Regions from separate parts of the Homo sapiens genome. Here all the other regions are linked to region 3. The links come from fine-mapping of genetic effects on gene expression. A gene starts in region 3. Each other region holds a variant in brackets. All regions are shown on one strand. Distances are between the middles of the regions. Region 1 overlaps WDR76 (WD repeat domain 76). Region 2 overlaps FRMD5 (FERM domain containing 5). Region 3 holds the start of CATSPER2 (cation channel sperm associated 2).

Region 1 (7,291 bases), 200 kb after region 3:
CTCCACCTCAGCTTCCTGCGTAGCTGGGACTACGGTCATGTGCCACCACACCTGGCTAATTTTTTAACTTTTTGTAGAGATGGGTCTCACTATGTTGCCTAGGCTCATCTCAAACTCCTGAGCTCAAGCACTCCACCTGCTTCAGCCTCCCAAAGTGCTGGGATTACAGGTGTGAGCCACCACACCCATCTGAGACTACTTTTTGAAGAATTTTGCAAAGGAAAAATTGAAAATTAGCATGATTAAATGAAGGTTTTTTTTTGGATGAGTTGATCTGTATAGATTTAAGACATACATAAAAATCCTTTTTTCATATCTTTCATGATGACTCCAAAAATCTGTATTACAGCCGGACGCGGTGGCTCACACCTGTGATCCCAGCACTTTGGGATGCCAAGGTTTGGCGGATCACCTGAGGTCTGGAGTTCAAGACCAGCCTGAACAACATGATGAAATCCCATCTCTACTAAAGATACAAAATTAGCCGGGCATGGTGGCACATGCCTGTAATCCCAGCTACTTGGGAGGCTGAGGCAGGAGATTTGCTTGAACACAGGAGACGGAGGTTGCAGTGAGCCGAGATGGCGCCATTGCACTCCAGCCTGGGAAACAAGAGCAAAACACCACCTCAAAAAAAAAAAAAAAAAAAAAAAATCTGTATTACTAGGTCTCTGTAGTCCAGTATCTCCATCAACCTAATTTTCCAGGACATTTGGCAATCTCATTAACAGATTTAACAAGTCTAAAAGCAATATTACCTTGTCTATCCTGTGCTCACAATTTCCCCAGTTTTTTTAAAAAATGGCTTCATTGAGGTAATAATTTACCTATCATAAAATCCTATTTAAAAAATGTAAAATTCAATGCTTTTTTTTCTTTTTTTTTGAGATGGGAATCTTGCTCTGTCACCCAGGCTGGAGTGCTGTGGTGTGATCCTGGCTCACTGCAATCTCTGCCTCCTGGGTTCAGGTGATTCTCGTGCCTCAGCCTCCTGAGTAGCTGGGATTATAGGCGCTCGCTGCCACACCTGGCTAATTTTTTTTTTTTTGAGACGAGTCTTGCTCTGTTGCCCAGGCTGGCATGCAGTGGCGTGATCTCTGCTCACTGCAGCCTCCGCCTCCTGGGTTCAAGCAGTTCTCTGCCTCAGCCTCCCAAGTGGCTGGGATTACAGGCGTCCGCTACCACACCTGGCTAATTTTTTTGTTTTTTTAGTAGAGATGGGGTTTCACCATCTTGGCCAGGCTGGTCTTGAACTCCTGACCTTGTAATCCACCCGCCTCGGCCTCCCAAAGTGCTGGGTTTACACGAATGAGTCACCGTGCCCAGCCTAATTTTTGTATTTTTTGTAGAGATGAGGCTTCTCCATGTTGGCCAGGCTGATCTGGAACTCCTGACCTCAAGTGATTTTCACCTGCTTCGGCCTCCCAGAGCTGCGATTACAGGCGTGAGCCACTGCACCTGGCCTCAGTGGTTTTTAATAAGTTTACTTAGTTGTTTAATTATCATAGTCTGGTTTTAGAACATTTTCATCATCCCTATAAGATCCCTCATGCTGGCTGGGTGCAGTGGCTCATGCTTGTAATTCCAGGGCTTTGGGAAGTCAAGGCAGGAGGATGGCTTAAGCCCACTAATTTGAGACCTGCCTAGGTGACATAGTGAGATGCCTGTCTCTTAAAAAAAACAAACAAACAAAAAAAAAACTGGATGTAGTGGTGTGTGCCATTAGTCCCAGCTACTCAGGAAGTTGAGCTGGGAATATCACCTGAGCTCAAGGCGGTTGAGGCTGCAGTGAGCCATGATTGTGTCACTGTACTCCAGGCTGGATTGACAGAGTGAGACCCTATCTCAAAAAAAGAAAAAAAATTCACTTACTGCAATAAGAAAGAAGCAGAACCTAATGTAGTATACTTCAAAAACTAGCTACCAAGGAGAGAAACAAATCTGTAGCAGAGCTAGGAGACAGCATAATTTAGCTTCTGCCCTGCCCCGTGTGCAGAATCTATACTGGTAAATTGACCAAATCCTGAGAATTTTCTATATTATCAAAAGTAGAGAGAAGCACATTGGGTATTCCGATTTTTCCTCTTTTCAATGAGGAATGGGGAAATAGTTGCTGGGGTGAAATCAGGAAAAATAGAAGAAGTAGGGACAGTGAGTAGTAGAACTGATTGTCTTCAAAGGAAGTTTTCTTGGCCCACGGGAGTGGTAACACCCTCCACCGCCATACAAGTAGGTGGTATGAATCCTGGTATAAAATAATGAACAAGGCCGGGCGCAGTGGCTCATGCCTGTAATCCCAACACTTTGGGAGGCTGAGGCAGGTGAATCACCTGAGGTCGAGTTCAAGATCAGCCTGACTAACATGGTGAAACCCTGTCTCTACTAAAAATACAAAATTAGCTGGGTATGGTGATGTGCACCTGTAATCCCAGCCACTTGGGAAACTAAGGCAGGAGAATTGCTTGAACCCGGGAGGCAGAGGTTGCAGTGAGCCGGCATTGCACCACTGCACTCCAGCCTGGGCGACAGAGTTGAGACTTTTTTTTTTTTTTTTTTGAGGCCAAAAAAACTGCATTTCAGATTACCTGCTGTCTCAACATGGTGAAACCCCGTCTCCACTAAAAATACAAAAATTAGCCAAGCATGGTGGTGGGTGCCTGTAATCCCAGCGACTCAGGAGGCTGAGACAGGAGAATCGCTTGAACCTGGGAGGTGGAGGTTGCAGTGAGCTGAGATCGTGCCACTGCACTCAAGCCTGGGTGACAGAGTGAGACTTCATCTCAAAAAAAAAAAAAAAAAGACTGTTGGAGGAAGGGTGAGAATAATATTCTCAAATCAATATAAATTATCTAAAATTAACAGTTTAAAAAATAAAAAGCATAATGACTACAATTGCTTTTTGTTTTATACTTTTGCCATTGTAGAAGATAATGTCTCTGTAAATACTTGAAATTCAAAAATTCCTTTAGCTTCATTTTCTTATATTATTTTGACAGATTTATGTGTACCTATACAGATAGAATGATAGCGAAGAAATTTTAAAAAAGGACCATGCTGTATATGCCGTTTTAAATCACATTAAATTTAACTATAAAGATGTCTATAATCTCAGTGTTTCAATGATAATTTTGGTTAATTTTAGATTTGGAATGATTTTTTTTTTTGAGACGGAGTCTCGCTTTGTCGCCCAGGCTGGAGTTCAGTGGTGCAATCTTGGCTCACTGCAACCTCTGCCTCCCCGGTTCAAGCAATTCTCTGCCTCAGCCTCCTGAGTAGCTGGAATTACAGGTGTCTGCCACCACGCCCGGCTAATTTTTGTATTTTTAGTAGAGACGGGGTTTCACCATCTTGGCCAGGCTGGTCTTGAATTCCTGACCTCGTGATCCACCCACCTCAGCCTCCCAAAGTGCTGGGATTACAGGTGAGCCACCGCGCCTGGCCTGGAGTGATTTTTTTAAAACTTCCATCTTTGTACATTTCTGCATTGTTTGAGTTCTTTATACCAAGAGAAAATTTTATTTTTCTAGAAAACAAATGCTATAAACAAATATGTCAGTAGTTTCTAACTCTGGTAACAGGAAGAGTATGTGTGATTATAATAATTTTTTCTCTTATTTTTTCTTTTAAAGAATACTTCTCTCCATTTTAAAATTTAAAATAAAAAAGAAAACAAAAATGCTTGACCATTTCAGAGTAGAGTAAGCCAGATTTAGAGGTGATTCTTTGGTTCATAATATGCCATATGGCATAGAAACATAACTTGTTCTGAAAAGCGACTTCTCAGGAGCTGGCAATCCAGTTGTGGAAAGGATAGTCCTTAGGAGTAGGTATATTAATATGGAAATTCAAATACATGCATTTTTATGGTGTTATT[TTTTTA/T]TTTTATTTTATTTTATTTTATTTTATTTTATTTTATTTTTTGAGACGGAGTCTTGCTCTGTCACCCAGGCTGGAGTGCAGTGGTGAGATGTCGGCTCACTGCAAGCTCCACCTCCCGGATTCATGCCATTCTCCTGCCTCAGCCTCCCGAGTAGATGGGACTACAGGTGCCGGCCACCACGCCCGGCTAGTTTTTTGTATTTTTAGTAGAGATGGGGTTTCACCATGTTAGCCAGGATGGTCTCGATCTCCTGACCTCGTGATCCGCCCGCCTTGGCCTCCCAAAGTGCTAGGATTACAGGCGTGAGCCACCGCGCCCGGCCATTTTTATGGTGCATTTAGAGGACAAAGTATGTTTAAAACCATTATCTTTGTCCCAGGACCAAATACCTTACGAAAATTACACTGAGAATGAGTAAGTTAATATTATACAGAAGAAGCCTGCTGCAGAAGCAAAGTGGTAAGGTACTGATACTGTTTTAGTTAGCAATTATACCATGTGTGAAATAGAGTAGATTTATCATTTCCTGAGGATTTTATAAACTGACAGTAATATATAAACTATTTTGTTAGTTACAGAAAGCTGGTCACTGTTAATGTGACTTGGTATTGTTGGATTGAAAACTAGAAAAAAGTTAATGACAAGATAAAGTTTCTCATTCTGACTTTGTGAAGGGGAGAGTGGTTACAATTATAGACTAAGAAAAGACTGAATATAATCCAGTGTAAATTCTTTAATGACATAATAGCATAGCAAAAATCACTATTTTTCACTAGTTTTTTTCTCTCTCCCCTTTCCCGCAACTCTCTTCCAGACCCAGCAACCTAAAGAAGATGGAGTTTATGTTTTTCATCCCCATAGTCAGCCAGTTAGCTGTCTTTACTTCTCACCCGCCAATCCGGCCCACATACTGTCACTGAGCTATGATGGCACGTTACGCTGTGGGGATTTTTCCAGGGCTATTTTTGAAGAGGTAAATGTTAATGTGTTTACATGCTGACTTCAGATGATATTCTAGATTCTTCGAAATGCCACATGAATAATTATTATACCAATTGGGAGAAGTGGTATAGCAGAAGGACTTTGAGAACTACGCTGCCTAAGTTCAAATCCCAGATCATCTGTTACTAGTTGTATGACCTTGACAAGTTGCTTAACCTTGTTGTGCCTCACTTTCCTTAGCTGTGAAATGGGATTTAACAGGACTGACCTTACAGGGTTGTCATGAGAATTTAATGAGCTTATGCAGATAAAGTACTTAGAAGAGAGCCTGGCACATAGTATGTGTTTGCGCTTGTTAAATTTCTTTTTTTTTTCTCTCCCAAAGCTTTTAACTAAAATAACTTACTCTTCTGTTTTTAGGCATAAGACTTGTATTTAGCTGGGTGTGGTGGCTCATGCTTGTAATCTCAGCACTTTGGGAAGCCAAGGTGGGAGACTCACTTCAGGCCAGGAGTTCCAGACCAGCCTGGGCAACATGGCGAGACCTTGTCTCTACAGAAAATAAAAAATATTAGCTGAGCTTGGTGGTGTGTGCCTGTAGTCTCAGCTACTCAGGAGGCTGAGGTGGGAGAATCACTTGAGCCCAGGAGTTCAAGATCAGCCTGGGCAACATAGTAAGACCTTGTCTCTAAAAAAAATTAGCTTGGTGTGGTGGCATGTGCCTGTAGTCACAGCTACTCAGGAGGCTGAGGTGTGAGGATTGCTTGAGCCCAGGAGATTGAGGCTGTAGTAAAGCCGTGATCACATACATCATTGCACTTCAGCCTGGGTGACAGAGTGAGACCCTCTCTCAAAATAAGACATCTTCTACTTAATGTTTAAAACAAACATATCATTTGAAATGAACTTTCAGATTTGCTTAACTGTATCAGATTGCCTCAATAAGATAAGTCTTATAAGTTGAACTTTTTTATTTTATTTTTTTTGAGACGGAGTTTTACTCTCGTCACCTAGGCTGGAGTGCAGTGGCGAGATCTCGGCTCACTGCAACTTCTGCCTCCCAGGTTCAAGCAATTCTTCTGCCTCAGCCTCCTGAGTAGCAGGGATTACAGGCACCCATCATCACGCCCGGGTAATTTGTTGTTGTTGTTGTTGTCGTCGTTGTTGTTGTTGTAGAGATGGAGTCTCACTCTGTCGCCCAGGCTGGAGTGCAGTGGTGCGATCTTGGCTCACTGCAAGCTCCGCCTCCCAGGTTCAAGTGATTCTCCTGTCTCAGCCTCCTGAGTAGCTGGGACTACAGGCGCATGCCACCATGCCAAGCTAATTTTTGTATTTTTAGTAGGGACGGGGTTTCACCATGTTGACCAGGCTGGTCTCGAACTCCTGACCTTGTAATCCACCTGCCTCAGCCTCCCAAAGTGCTGGGATTACAGCGTGAGCCACTGTGTGTGGTCAGATTTGCCTCTTCTGGACATTTCATATAAATGAAATCATACAATTTGTGGTCTTTTGTGACTGGTTTCTTTAACAAAATGTATTCAAAGTTCATCCATGTTGTAGCCGTGTATCAGTACTTCATTCCTTTTTATGGCTGCATAATATGCCATTGTATGGGTATTCCACATTTTATTCATCTGTTCATCAGTTGATGAACATTTGTGTTTCTATTCTTTCTTTATATATTTATTTTTGAAACAGAGTCTCGCTCTTGTTGCCCAGGCTGCAGTGCAGCAGTGCAATCTTGGCTCACTGCAACTTCCACCTCCCGGGTTCAAGCAATTCTCCTGCCTCATCCTCCTGAGTAGCTGGGATTACAGGCACGTGCCACCACACCTGGCTAATTTTTGTATTTTTAGTAGAGACAGGGTTTCCCCATGTTGGCCAGGCTGGTCTTGAACTCCTGACCTCAGGTGATCCACCCACCTTGGCCTCCCAAAGTCTTGGGATTACAGGTGTGAGCCACCACGCCTGGCCTTACTTATTTTTATTTTTTGAGATGGGGGTCTCACTCTGTCACTCCAGCTGGAGTGAAGTGGCTTGATCTCGGCTCACCGCAGCCTCTGCCTCCCAGGCTCACGTGATCCTCCCACCTAAGCCTCCTGAGTAGCTGGAACTATAGTCATGTGTCACCATGCTTGGCTAATTTTTGTATTTTTAGTAGAGACGGTGTTTTGCCATGTTGCCCAGGCTGGTCTCAAACTCCTGAGCTCAAGTGATCTGCCCACCTTGGCCTTCCAAAGTGCTGGTATTACAGGCATGAGCCACCGCGCCTGGCTGTAACTTACATTTCAATAAGCTTGACTTTAAAACAATAGGTGGAGAACTCCTATAGCTTAATTAAAAAAGCTAACCCAATTAAAAAATGGGCAAAGGATCTGAATAAACATTTCTTTAAAGAAACACAAATGGCACCGGGTGCGGTGGCTCACCCCTGTAATCCCAGAACTTTGGGAGGCTGAGGCGGGTGGA
Region 2 (7,291 bases), 380 kb after region 3:
TCTATGGCAAGAGAAGGATATAATGTAGGAAAAAGTCCTTCCAGACTTCCAGACTATGCGAGATGGAAGTGCAGCAAAGCAACACTGATTTCCTCAGCCTGGAGATAAATCAGTTTGTTAAATAAGTGAGGATAAAATCAAAGGCCAAGTGCCCACTCCTTCTTCATGTTTGGGAGTCTAGAGAAGATCAACTCTCAGGCAGCCTCCACCACAACATGGTGCACAGAAACAGTGACTCAGCGTTGTAGCAGGTCTGGTAGAGAAGTGTCTGAGGTTCAGGTTTCCTGAGCCCCCATAGTTCCCATAAGGCACAGATACTGAGAGATTATAAGAGGATGAACTGGATGGCAGACACACCAGAGGCTCAGGGGGGTGCAACCAGAAGTCAGGGGGAGGCCCAGGTAGCCAGAGTGCTACTGGGTTCTGAGCAAGCAGCCTACAGCCACATATTTCAGCCCTAAATGACAGCAGAACAAGCAGCACTAAAGTGGATGAGGGACCTTGCCCCTGAGACCAGGAGACACCTATGGCCATCATTTATGACACTACCCCAAGGGACTGTCTGAATTACTGGATCAGTTTAAGCTTTAAACTAGACTGGATATTTAGGTAATTTTTCTCTCCTGGTCTCAGGATAAAGGCTGTAAAGACATTGACAAAGAAGTGACATTTTCTCTGAGGAAGGCTCAAAGAAATAGACTAAACCATTTCTATTTTATTTACCACTACATCCACTGCTTTAACAGTGCCTGACATAAGTAGGTATTCAACAAATATTTGCCAAATGAAGGAATGAATAAGAGGCCATAGTGAGAGGAAACTGATCAACTAGCAAAGCTATGATAGAAATACCAGGCAGGCTGAATTGAAAAAACAATGCCAGTTCCATTTTGGCACCAAGCCAAAAAAGTCCCCACTTCACTCCTAAAACAAGTTTGTAACCTTTATGGAATGGCTCCTGCCACCATATTTAACTTACATTTGGTTCACTGTTTAAAGCCCTTCGGATAACACTGCTGCATCCTTTTGCTTCAAGGAAAAAAAAAAACCAGAACCACAAATAGCTGTGCAGGATTTCGACCTTGCAGTCACAATAAGAAAGCAGCAATAGGAACCAGAATGGGTGATGTCTGAACCAATAAACTAACTCTGGTGTTTAGCAGCAACTTTATTTTACCTGCCCCAGGATAATTTCAGTGTTAAAGCTATTAAACCTATAGGTATTCTAGTGGCTAGGATTAGTAAACAGAACATAACAGGGAACAGTACAGAGAAAATATGGTAACTAAAATACAAGCTTATACAGGATTGAGGTGGAGACACAGGCTGACATATGCTGACATGGTAACTAAAACACAAGGCTATATAGGATTGAGGTGCAGACATATTCAATCACTGTACTTTCCACAGTAAATTTGTTTCTCAACACTCTAGCAATAACATTAAAATTACCTATCAGGCTTTAAAACAGAACAGATGCTTAGAGATTCCGATTCAGTAGGTCTGGGGTGGAGCATACGCAATGCTAATTTTTAGTAACGTCTCAGGTGATTCTGATGCATGGCCACAGCATTCTGCAAGTGAGAACACCTGAAGAACATCATCAGTAAACACTGAAAGAACTTATGAATGAAAAGCCTCTTTGAATTATATATTTTTTGAGTATGGACTATGTTTTATTCATTTTTGTACTCTAGCCTCCAATGTTTCTGGTAATTAAAGAATAAGTGAACAAACAAATCACAAATTCTCTGCCTTGGTAGCCTGATGCTCTCAAAGAGACTGGAACATGGGAAACAAAAAAGTTGACAGCTGATGTTGTAAATCTGTACTTCCTGGAACAGAATTCCTGGCATAACTTTAGGCAGACTAAATGGGAATGAACATGTGTGATCATTACAACACTGATTTTTTTTTTTTACAAAATTAATTTTTGTTGAACTGGGGTGAGGGGTGAGGGAAGGAGGGGAAATTGGTGCTCTAATAAGATTTACGTATCCAAATCCCATACCCAGAGTCAGATTATGAAGAGCAGAATCACAAAGCCACTCCATTTATAAATCCTGATTCTGCCCTCTACTGTTTGTTTATTTTTGTATTTACTTCTCCTTGAGCAACAGTATAATGTACAACTGAAAATACTTAGTGTTACTGACAAGATTTATAATTCAGCACTACTTTATGTGTTAATGACTTCAAAGCCCTGGATGAATAAAGCGAACAGGGATTGACTCAGTGAAACTTCTAGCTTCCTGTAAACTTCATTCATTCTCAAGCTTAATGGAAACAAAACCCTATGCTAGGAAAAAGCAAGTATGTTTCCCTTTCTGAGTCTCCCTAGTTAAACACTATAATCAATGGCAACTCCACCTTGTAGCAAAGCTCAGTGATACCATGGATCCCATTACAATCCCCAAAAAGGAGAAGGTGAAGGAGGAGGAAGATGGAAGTTTGGCATGGTTTGACTCTGTCTCCACAAAATCTGCAGTCTTTCTGTCACCCTCACACTTGAAGTTACGTGGAAAGGAAGAAGAGGGAAGTGCTGGATGAGAGAAACTTAAGAGTGCAAAGTCTGAAAAAGATAGGAGAGAGAATAATGGTCTGAACTAAATAGGCAGAAGAAATCTATTCTCTATTAAAACAACAAGAATTTGCCGAAGCAGGTTTTCCAAAAGAGACCAGAAAAAGAAAAAAAAAAAGAAGCCCTAAAGTGATGCAGGAGGAGTGTCAGTCAGTCTGACTGGGTCTCCTAGTCAAAAGCTCTGGCCAAGTGACTAGATACTCACATGCTCTACAACCCTAGTGAGGAGTGCTTTGGGCTCCCACCTGCCTGGATGGATGGGTGCTGCACACTCAGCTACCTGCTTGGGTGATAAAAATAATTAGAATAGTGGTGTAGATGAAGGTTGAAGTCCTTGAAAAGTGCAAGAATATAAAGTTCTGCCCAGGGCCCCTCTTCCACAGGGGAGAAAAAAAAGCCACACACAACTGGATATTACAGTTATCCCATCATTTCTCTATGAAAATATAAAAACAAAATTAATGTTTGTCTTAGTCCATTTGGGCTTCTGTAACAAAATACCATAACCTGGGTGGCTTATAAACAACAGAAATTTATTTCTCATAGTTCTGGAGGCTGAGAATCTAAGATTAAGGTGCCAGCCATTCATGGTGTCTGGTAAGGGCCCTCTTCTTGGTTCATAGATGGTGCCTTCTTAATATGTCCTTACATGGTGGAAGGGGAGAAATCTGGTATCTTCAACCCCTTATAAGGTCATTAATCCCAATCATGAGTACTCTATCCTCATGACCTAACCACCTCCCGAAGGCCCCATCTTCTAATACCATCACACTGGGGATTAGGTTTCAACATATGAATTTTGCAGGGTACAAACATGTTCAGTCCATGGCAATGTTAACCCCTTTTGGTCCTATTTCACGTAGTCCAGTATTTGGTGGCTATTTTCATGATATTCCCCAATCATCTTATCCTTACATCTGCCTTAACTTTAAGATTACTTGAACGTTAGAGAAACTAAAAATGGGGACATCTTTCATTTTTATCAAATGATTATTCTGCTCCAACTCTATAGATTATAGATGCAAATCTTTATGGATCAGGTCCCTTGAGAGCTATTTTAAAATTCAAGCAGGGTAGAAAATAATTCCTGCAAGTCTACAGTACCCAAAACAGCATAG[T/TACTGGTACTAAA]ACTGGTACTAAAACAGGCACATAGACCAATGGAACAGAATAGAGAGCCCAGGAATAAGGCTGCACATCTATGACCATCTGATCTTCAACAAAGCTGACAAAAACAAGCAACGGGGAAAAAGACTCCCTATTCAATAAATGGTGGTGGGAAAACTGTCTATCCATATGCAGAAGATAGAAACTGGACCCCTTCCTTACATTATATACAAAAATCAACTCAAGATGGATAAAGACTTAACTGTAAAACCCAAAACTATGAAAACCCTGGAAGACAACCTAGGCAATACCATCCTGGACATAGGAACAAGCAAAGATTTCATGACAAAGATGCCAAAAGCAATTGCTATGAAAGCAAAAATTGACAAGTGGGATCTAATTAAACTGAAGAGCTTCTGCAGACACAGCAAAAGAAACTGTCCACAGAGTAAACAGACAACCTACAGAATGGAGAAAATATTTTCAAACTATGCATCTGACAAAGGTGTAATATCCAGCATCCATAAGGAACTTAAATTTACAAGAAAAAACAAACAACCCCATTAAAAAGTGGGCAAAGGACACAAACAGACACTTCTCAAAAGAAGACATACATGCAGCCAACAAGCATATGGAAAAAAAGCTCAATATCACTCATCATTAGAGAAATGCAAATCAGAACCACAAGGAGATACCATCTCACACCAGTCAGAAAGGCTATTATTAAAAAGTCAAAATATAACAGATACTTGTGAGGTTGTGGAGAAAAGGGAACACTTATACACTGTTGGTGGGAGTGTAAATTAGTTCAACCATTGTGGAAAGCAGTATGGCAATTCCTCGCTACAAAGAGCTCAACAGCAGAGCTACCATTGGACCCAGCAATCCCATTACTGGGTATATACCCAGAGGAAGATAAATCATTTTGCCATAAAGACACATGCATGTGGATGTTTACTGCAGCATTATTCACAACAGCAGAGACAAGGAATCAACCTAAATGCCCATCAATGACAGATTGCATAAAGAAAATATGGTACATATACACCATGGAATACTATGCAGCCATAAAAAAGAACAAGGTCATGTCTTTTGCAGGAACATGGATGGAGCTGGAGGCTATTATTCTTAGAAAAATAACACAGTTACAGAAAACCAAATACCACATGTTCTTACTTATAAGTGGTAGCTAAATGATAAAATATAATTTTGCTAATTATAGCTAAATTATAAGAACCTATAAACACAAGAAGGAAATAACAGACACTGGGTCTACTTGAAGGGGGAGGATGCGAGGAGAGAAAGGAGCAGAAAAGATAACTATTGGATACTGGGCTTAATATCTGGGTGATGAAATAATATCTACAACAAACCCCTGTAACACATGTTTACATATGTAAAAAACCTTCACATGTGCCTCCAAACCTAAAAGTTAAAAAAAAAATAAAGTTTTTCAAACTGATAAGAGGCAAATTCTCTTTTAAGAGGCATTTCAATAAATATCCCAAATAATAGTTTTTGTTCAAGTCTCTTTTTTGATATAGCATAAATGAACTTAATATTTTCATATATAATTTTCATTGTGTATATTCACTTGAAGCTTTCATTTATTCCATTGTTTACACTTGCTTTGTAAGATTTTTGTACAGAGAATTACACCAGTAAACAATTCTAATATTTCGAAAATGGTTTTAGTTCTGAGCTAATTTCAAAAACGGGAAGAGAAAAGGCAGTAGAATATAATGATTAAAATCATGGGCATAAACATCAAACTCCTTGAGTTCAAATTCTGATTCTGAAACTTAGTAACTGGGTGAGTTGGGGTAAGTTGTTTGAACTCTCTTAGGCTAGCTTCCTCTACAACATGAGTGAAAACGGTTTGTCCCTAAGATTCGTAAGAATTAAATAAGATCATTTATGTTTGAGGCTTGGCATACTGTCTGGTATTTATTAAGTGTTCAATAAAAGGTGATTAGGATTCGCTCTTATTTATTTGATCTAGAGTATAAATTTTCCCATGAAGCATTTATACAGGAAAACACAATAGGCCACAGACAAGGCATCTCTGATATTGGTCATCAGAAAGACTCCAGGAGTCTGCCCAGTCACATGGGGTTCTGGAATTTAGCCAGGCTGCTGAGTGGAAACTGTTACTCTTGTTTCCTTGGCAATAGTCTGGGCATGAGAAAGATCTCAATTTTTGATAATCAAAAGTCAATGAAAAATATGCTCCTTAGGCAGGTGTCTAATTGAATGTTGTCTACTTGAAAAGTACAGTGATACAATTCACCATAACAGGGTCTTAAAAGTTTACTAATCACACAGGAATGATTACTGTTCATTCAACCTCCTTTTTCAGCAATTTATTTTTTCAGGTTTTCTAGTTAGAATTATTTGACTACCTACTTATATGGTCTGTTACCCTGACCAAGTAATACCCATGTGTTGTCTTTAAAGGTTCACTTGGTCTACACTTGGGTTCACGGACTTCTAAATGCTGGGAAACAAAGTTACATTCCTCTCACTTGCCACCTGCATTAGTTTCTGCTTCTGCATCAGTAAATTTTGCAATAAAAGATTATTGTGAAATAAGCACATATTCCCTTTCATACTCCTTTGGGAGTTAATGGGGTTATGTGCCCATCTATCTTAGGAAAATATTTCCCCCTTACTTAGCACTGTCTGGAGCAGGAAGACGTAAGGCTTGTCTAAGTCTGTGCCCCAACCTCCAAGTTGCATCCTCAGCAACTTCAGCTAATTTTAGATTTAGCTCTTTTTCCAGGCTTTGGGCAGTCTGAAACTTGGGAGCTGAGGGGGGAAGAGAAGAGTTAAGAAGCCCTAGTCAAACACCGATGAGTTCTACATGAGGCTCATTCTAGCCCTAACCTAACAACTGGGTGCTTCTAACTATTTTCCCTCTACCCAGGTTAGAGATCTCTCCAACCTGTCCACTTGTATATCCAATCCCTTCTTTTTGATACCTCAGTCCCTAAAGCTGGTTCCCTGAAACAGTGAATGTTCCTTGCTCCCCATTTCCACTGGCCTATCAGAACACTTAATTCTTGTTAGAATTCTGCTGTTTTCACTTTCTATATTTGCTTAAGACCTGGTACTATATTTAAAATTTCTGATGTAGCATATGCAGCAGTTTCCAGACTTCAGTCCAAACCCCAAAGAGCCTGCAATCATGGTGTCACAGGTGACTCTTCCGGGGCTAAGTCACAAGATATGGTTCCATACCCAAAAAACACTCTACATAACCAGTGGTTTTAAAATTTTTCTTGTCTTGCCATGCCATGCTGACAAAAGGCCATAAAGACCTTAAGGAATATACAATTGCTAGCAATTAAATCAACCTTGAACAGGTTGTATACCACTTAGGTCTGGTCTGAGCTCAAGTTTTGAACATTTACACATCTAGAACATTCTCCTAAGTGTTACTCTGGTGGTGTAAAGAAGCAACACGTCAGACTTTGCCTGTGCCTGACTGGCTGTGAGTCAAACACACAGTATCCTGGATGACTGCTATTTTGGCATTTGCTAGAATGTCTTTTGCCAAATTCCTCCAGCATTCATTTGAAGGCATCAAAATCCGTTTTACCTCCCAAAGAGTATT
Region 3 (6,860 bases):
CGTCCTCCTGCCTCAGCCTACTGAGTAGCTGGGATTACAGGTGCCCACCACCACGCCCAGCTAATTTTTTCTATTTTTAGTACAGATGGGGTTTCAACATGTTGGCTAGGCTGGTCTTGAATTCCTGACCTCAAGTGATTCAACCACCTCGGCCTCCCAAAGTGCTGAGATTACAGGTGTGAGCTACCGTGCCCAGCGAATATTTCTAGATTTTAGCAGTTGCATAAATTCTACTCCAGGAGGCTTAATATAATTGTCCTTAATATAAATGTCACATTTCAAATGACATTCAAAAATGTAAAATGATCAATTTAGAAAAAAAAATTACTCCTACCCACTTCCTCTTTTTCTTTTTCTTTTTTTTTTTTTTGAGACAGAGTTGTACTCTGTCGCCCAGGCTGAAATGCAGTGGCACAATCTCGGCTCACTGAAACCTACGCCTCCTGGGTTTAAGCGATTCTCCTGCCTCAGCCTCCCAAGTAGCTGGGACTACAAGCGCGTGCTACCAAGCCCGGCTAATTTTTTGTATTTTTTAGTAGAGACAGGGTTTCACCATGTTGCCCAGGCTGGTCTCCAACTCCTGAGCTCCGGCAATCCACACGCCCCGGCCTCCCAAAGTGCTAGGATTACACGTGTGAGCCGGCGTGCCCGGCCTCACTTCCTCTTTCATACAAGGTCAGTTCTCACCTATTTCAACCATCAATATGATCGTATTCAAAAAGACCAGGAAGATGATGAAGTTTTTGAAGAGAGGACCTGTTGTCTCTTAAGGAAATGTACAGAGTGGAGTTCTTTCTGATTTATGCAGCTGAAATAATAAGAGCAATAACATAAGCAGTGAAAATGAGACAGTGGAGTATGGGGAGCAAAAAATAAGTCATTAGGCAGATGATCAACAGCCAGGATAAAAATGAGTGACATGAAAGGATACACTCAAGGACCCATCCGGCCCACAAAGAAAGAGGTGGCCTCTGACTGCAGCGCACATGAAGCCTGCTCAACAGCCTCTGGGCATGTGAAATCTGTTCTATACGCTGAGGCTTTATAGAGAAACGCACTAGCTGGTGTTGATCTCCCAATACAAGTTTCTTCTGGCGGGAAGGATCTACAACAAAAATTAAAAAGGGATAGTGGATAAATACAAACAAAATAGACCAGGTAGGGTTGGGGGCAGGGATACTGGTCAGGTAATGGGTTCCCCTAATGCCTTACTGCTAGTCCTTCTCTTCTCACAGCAACTAAGAATTCTGTTTGGAGTGAGAGCAAATGTATTGCTTATGACCAACACTGTCCATGCCCACAAAAGCAGCAGGCTCACTCTCAAAGTTTTAAGAGTCTTTGACAGAAACTCTTCCCAATCATCCATGGCTAGTGGCTATCCTAGGCCTAAAAGTGAAAGACGTGGATTCTATCTCTTCAGTTTTATTTACAAGCCCTTGATTTATCAAGTTTGGTAAACCAGCAACTAAACCTCCCCAGAATTTTCCACTCTTAAATGTAGAGGATGTGGATAGGAGTCTTAAATTTAAATTAGTGAAGAAATAGGCTGCTGACCAAGTAACTCCCTGATAGTGTGCCGCGGCACAGCTTGGCTCAAGCCTTGCAAATGCTCAATGAGAGAGAAAGTATCGATGAGACGTGAACGAATGGCATCAGCTCGGGGAAGCTGCATCTGCTCTTCTTGTTGGTAAGCGGCCATGTCTGCTAAGAAAATGTAAGCATCAAGTGTCATTTCATTCTTGGAGCTGCACCAAGGATTACAGGTTTTCTGTCCCCTCCTCCCCACCCTCTTTACCCTTAAGATTCCTTAATGTACCCACATCTACGAACTAGGAGCAGTTGGGAAGAACAAACATTCTACTAGGACTCAGGGTGTTTTGAAACAAAAGGGGCTAAGTGGTAAAGACATTGCACAGTCGACCAAGCGGCCAGGCATCTTCACTTTGTGATGGCATTTCTAATTAAAACTCATTAAAAACAAAACAAAACAAACAAAAACACCGCAAGAAAAAGGAGCAGCCACAAGGGCAGGGGCCCGGGGCTGGACAAAGAATCTGGGTCCCACCTGTGCCTGAGACAATCGGGCAATGAGGTGGAGTTGGGGGAGGTCTTGGCCTGCTCACGCAAGAGAAACCAAGTGCAGAGAAATTGGACAAAATGCCAAAGCCTGACATTTTGAAAATGGGTCCCGTCCCAAGTGTGTCCACTCCAACACTCCTTCGGGGGCTAGCTCCTTCTCTCCTCCATTCTCGCTTCTGGGCCTCACCTCAGCCCAGGTTCTCTTTGCCCACTCAGTCCTTATTTCACGCTTCCGCCTCCAGCTCAGGTGCCCCGAGCCTGGCTACCCCTATGCAAGACGAGCTCAGGGCCGGCTCCCAGCCTCACTGCGCCCCATTCCCCGCCCCGCTCGACCCCCAGGTTTCGGCTCACCCCGGGACCCGGCCCTAGCCCCTACCCACAGCCCAGGACCATGCGGAGCAACGCTCGCCCAGCCACTCGCCGCCTAGGCCCCGCCCCGCCCCGCTCTCCGGCCACTCAGCGGTAACCAGCTGGTCCCGCCCGCCGGACGAAGGCGACGCGCAGCCAATCAGCGGCTGCCACACAGCGGCCCGAGCCGGGTTTGGGGGTTGGGACCTCCGGCTGCAGGTCCCCTGGGCCAGACGCGCCAGCGCAGGCAGCCGGTTTGTGGTCGCGCGCCCGACCTCCGCAGTCCCAGCCGAGCCGCGACCCTTCCGGCCGTCCCCACCCCACCTCGCCGCCATGCGCCTCCGCCGCCTAGCGCTGTTCCCGGGTGTGGCGCTGCTTCTTGCCGCGGCCCGCCTCGCCGCTGCCTCCGAACTCACGGACGACAACTTCGAGAGTCGCATCTCCTACACGGGATCTGCGGGCCTCATGCTCGTCGGGTTTTTCGCCCCCTGATGACGCCACTCTGCCAAGGCGGGGGAAGAAGGGCCGGGCTGGGCCGGGGCCGGGGGCGAGGGCGCGGGGAACTGTTGGGCCTACGCAGCGCCGGCGCCCTTCATTCCTGTGGGCCCCTGCTGTGGCGGGCACATTTCTCATTCCCGGGAGCTGGAGGTGCCTCGCCGAGAGCGGTGGAGTCGGTGCTGATCGGCCCAAGGAAAACCCGAAGGCTGCGCTCACGCAGGGCCTCATCCTTATCTCGGTGCTCTTGTGGCACTTCCTATTTGCAGAGGGTTTTGCCACCCCTTCCCCCAGTTCAATATGTAGCTATATTGTTTCTGCATGAGTCAGTATTAATGTTACTCCAGTCTACAGACTAGACATCCCAAAGCCTTGTAGTGGAAGCGGACGTTTCACCAAATGCAGAAGTCCTGGATCCCTAGGGTATTTCCTTTCATCTTACCTCACGCCGCACAGCCATTGGTTTCTAGCCAAGGTCACTGAGTGGCTGCAGAATGGTCCTAAGTGCTTTCTTGAGGCAGGCAATTTGTCCGTCACATGGTGTACAGTTTCTCCCTTCAGCTGATCACTTACATCTCAGTACCGGCAGATACCTCTGTCCAAACGAAAAGAGTACCTGAACAAGAATAATTCCATCATAATCTGTCCATATTGTCCATTTTAATTAGGATTTCTTTAAAATGTCAATACTCCGAATAGGAACAGCTCCAGTCGACAGCTCCCAGCATGAGTGACGCAGAAGACGGGTGATTTCTGCATTTCCATCTGAGGTACCCGGTTCATCTCAATAGGGAGTGCCAGACAGTGGGCGCAGGTCAGTGGGTGCGCGCACTGTGCACGAGCCGAAGCAGGGCGAGGCATTGCCTCACTCGGGAAGCGCAAGGGGTCAGGGAGTTCCCTTTCCTAGTCAAAGAAAGTGGTGACAGACAGCACCTGGAAAATCGGGTCACTCCCACCCGAAAACTTCGCTTTTCCGACGGGCTTAAAAAACAGCGCACCAGGAGATTATATCCCGCACCTGGCTCGGAGGGTCCTACACCCACGGAGTCTCGCTGATTGCTAGCACAGCAGTCTGAGATCAAACTGCAAGGCGGCAGCGAGGCTGGGGGAGGGGTGCCTGCCATTGCCCAGGCTTGCTTAGGTAAACAAAGCAGCCGGGAAGCTCGAACTGGGTGGAGCCCACCACAGCTCAAGGAGGCCTGCCTGCCTCTGTAGGCTCCACCTCTGGGGGCAGGGCACAGACAAACAAAAAGACAGCAGTAACCTCTGCAGACTTAAATGTCCCTGTCTGACAGCTTTGAAGAGAGCAGTGGTTCTCCTAGCACGCAGCTGGAGATCTGAGAACGGCCAGACTGCCTCCTCAAGTGGGTCCCTGACCCCTGACCCCCAAGCAGCCTAACTGGGAGGCAACCCCCAGCAGGGGCAGACTGACACCTCACACGGCCAGGTACTCCAACAGACCTGCAGCTGAGGGTCCTGTCTGTTAGAAGGAAAACTAACAAACAGAAAGGACGTCCACACCAAAAACCCATCTGTACATCACCATCATCGAAAACCAAAAGTAGATAGAACCACAAAGATGGGGAAAAAACAGAGCAGAAAAACTGCAAACTCTAAAAAGCAGAGCACCTCTCCTCCTCCAAAGGAACACAGTTCCTCACCAGCAACGGAACAAAGCTGGACGGAGAATGACTTTGACGAGCTGAGAGAAGAAGGCTTCAGACGATCAAATTACTCTGAGCTACGGGAGGACATTCAAACCAAAGGCAAAGAAGTTGAAAACTTTGAAAAAAATTTAGAAGAATGTATAACTACAATAACCAATACAGAGAAGTGCTTAAAGGAGCTGATGGAGCTGAAAGCCAAGGCTCAAGAACTACGTGAAGAATGCAGAAGCCTCAGGAGCCGATGCAATCAACTGGAAGAAAGGGTATCAGCGATGGAAGATGAAATGAATGAAATGAAGCGAGAAGGGAAGTTTAGAGAAAAAAGAATAAAAAGAAATGAGCAAAGCCTCCAAGAAATATGGGACTATGTGAAAAGACCAAATCTACGTCTGACTGGTGTACCTGAAAGTGATGGGGAGAATGGAACCAAGTTGGAAAACACTCTACAGGATATTATCCAGGAGAACTTCCCCAATCTAGCAAGGCAGGCCAACATTCAGATTCAGGAAATACAGAGAATGCCACAAAGATACTCCTCGAGAAGAGCAACACCAAGACACATAATTGTCAGATTCACCAAAGTTGAAATGAAGGAAAAAATGTTAAGGGCAGCCAGAGAGAAAGGTGGGTTACCCTGAAAGGGAAGCCCATCAGGCTAACAGCAGATCTCTCGGCATAAACTCTACAAGCCAGAAGAGAGTGGGGGCCAATATTCAACATTCTTAAAGAAAAGAATTTTCAACCCAGAATTTCATATCCAGCCAAATTAAGCTTCATAAGTGAAGGAGAAATAAAATACTTTACAGACAAGCAAATGCTGAGAGATTTTGTCACCACCAGGCCTGCCCTAAAAGAGCTCCTGAAGGAAGCACTAAACATGGACAGGAACAAACGGTACCAGCCGCTGCAAAATCATGCCAAAATGTAAAGACCATCGAGACTAGGAAGAAACTGCATCAACTAATGAGCAAAATAACCAGCTAACATCATAATGACAGGATCAAATTCACACATAACAATATTAACTTTAAATGTAAATGGACTAAATGCTCCAATTAAAAGACACAGACTGGCAAATTGGATAAAGAGTCAAGACCCATCAGTGTGCTGTATTCAGGAAACCCATCTCACGTGCAGAGACACACATAGGCTCAAAATAAAAGGATGGAGGAAGATCTACCAAGCAAATGGAAAACAAAAAAAGGCAGGGGTTGCAATCCTAGTCTCTGATAAAACAGACTTTAAACCAACAAAGATCAAAAGAGACGAAGGCCATTACTTAATGATCAATTAAGTAATTAAGGCCTTGTTGATCAATTCAACAAGAAGAGCTAACTATCCTAAATATATATGCACCCAATACAGGAGCACCCAGATTCATAAAGCAAGTCCTGAGTGACCTACAAAGAGACTTAGACTCCCACACATTAATAATGGGAGACTTTAACACCCCACTGTCAACATTAGACAGATCAACGAGACAGAAAGTCAACAAGAATACCCAGGAATTGAACTCAGCTCTCCACCAAGCGGACCTAATAGACATCTACAGAACTCTCCACCCCAAATCAACAGAATATACGTTTTTTTCAGCACCACACCACACCTATTCCAAAATTGGCCACATAGTTGGAAGTAAAGCTCTCCTCAGCAAATGTAAAAGAACAGAAATTATAACAAACTATCTCTCAGACCACAGTGCAATCAAACTAGAACTCAGGATTAAGAATCTCACTCAAAACCGCTCAACTACATGGAAACTGAACAACCTGCTCCTGAATGACTACTGGGTACATAACGAAATGAAGGCAGAAATAAAGATGTTCTTTGAAACCAACGAGAACAAAGACACAACATACCAGAATCTCTGGGACACATTCAAAGCAGTGTGTAGAGGGAAATTTATAGCACTAAATGCCCACAAGAGAAAGCAGGAAAGATCCAAAATTGACACCCTAACATCACAATTAAAAGAACTAGAAAAGCAAAAGCAAACACATTCAAAAGCTAGCAGAAGGCAAGAAATAACTAAAATCAGAGCAGAACTGAAGGAAATAGAGACACAAAAAACCCTTCAAAAAATTAACGAATCCAGGAGCTGGTTTTTTGAAAGGATCAACAAAATTGATAGACCGCTAGCAAGACTAATAAAGAAAAAAAGAGAGAAGAATCAAATAGATGCAATAAAAAATGATAAAAGGGATATCACCACCAATCCCACAGAAATACAAACTACCATCAGAGAATACTACAAACACGTCTACGCAAATA

Evidence for each region. PIP is the estimated chance that this variant, and not a neighbour inherited with it, causes the effect.
Region 1: its variant is the best candidate, but not a certain one, in a credible set for the expression of CATSPER2 in whole blood (INTERVAL, PIP 0.56).
Region 2: its variant is the best candidate, but not a certain one, in a credible set for the expression of CATSPER2 in transverse colon (GTEx, PIP 0.83).

What each region holds. Positions count from the first base shown.
Region 1 is chr15:43,846,393-43,853,683 of GRCh38, forward strand. WDR76 (WD repeat domain 76) reads left to right here. Exons shown (of 13, transcript NM_024908.4): 9 at 4,695-4,853. Among named protein-coding and RNA genes, the nearest start is that of WDR76, 23 kb to the left of the region's middle. The variant TTTTTA/T (reference allele first, on the strand shown) is at 3,875.
Region 2 is chr15:44,028,286-44,035,576 of GRCh38, forward strand. All of the region lies in intron 1 of FRMD5 (FERM domain containing 5), which reads right to left. Among named protein-coding and RNA genes, the nearest start is that of FRMD5, 160 kb to the right of the region's middle. The variant T/TACTGGTACTAAA (reference allele first, on the strand shown) is at 3,700.
Region 3 is chr15:43,646,363-43,653,222 of GRCh38, forward strand. It overlaps CATSPER2 (cation channel sperm associated 2), which reads right to left and starts at 2,482. Exons shown (of 13, transcript NM_172095.4): 1 at 2,267-2,482; 2 at 1,555-1,701; 3 at 932-1,105; 4 at 688-756. The coding sequence starts at 1,699. It also overlaps the pseudogene PPIP5K1P1-CATSPER2 and the pseudogene PDIA3P2.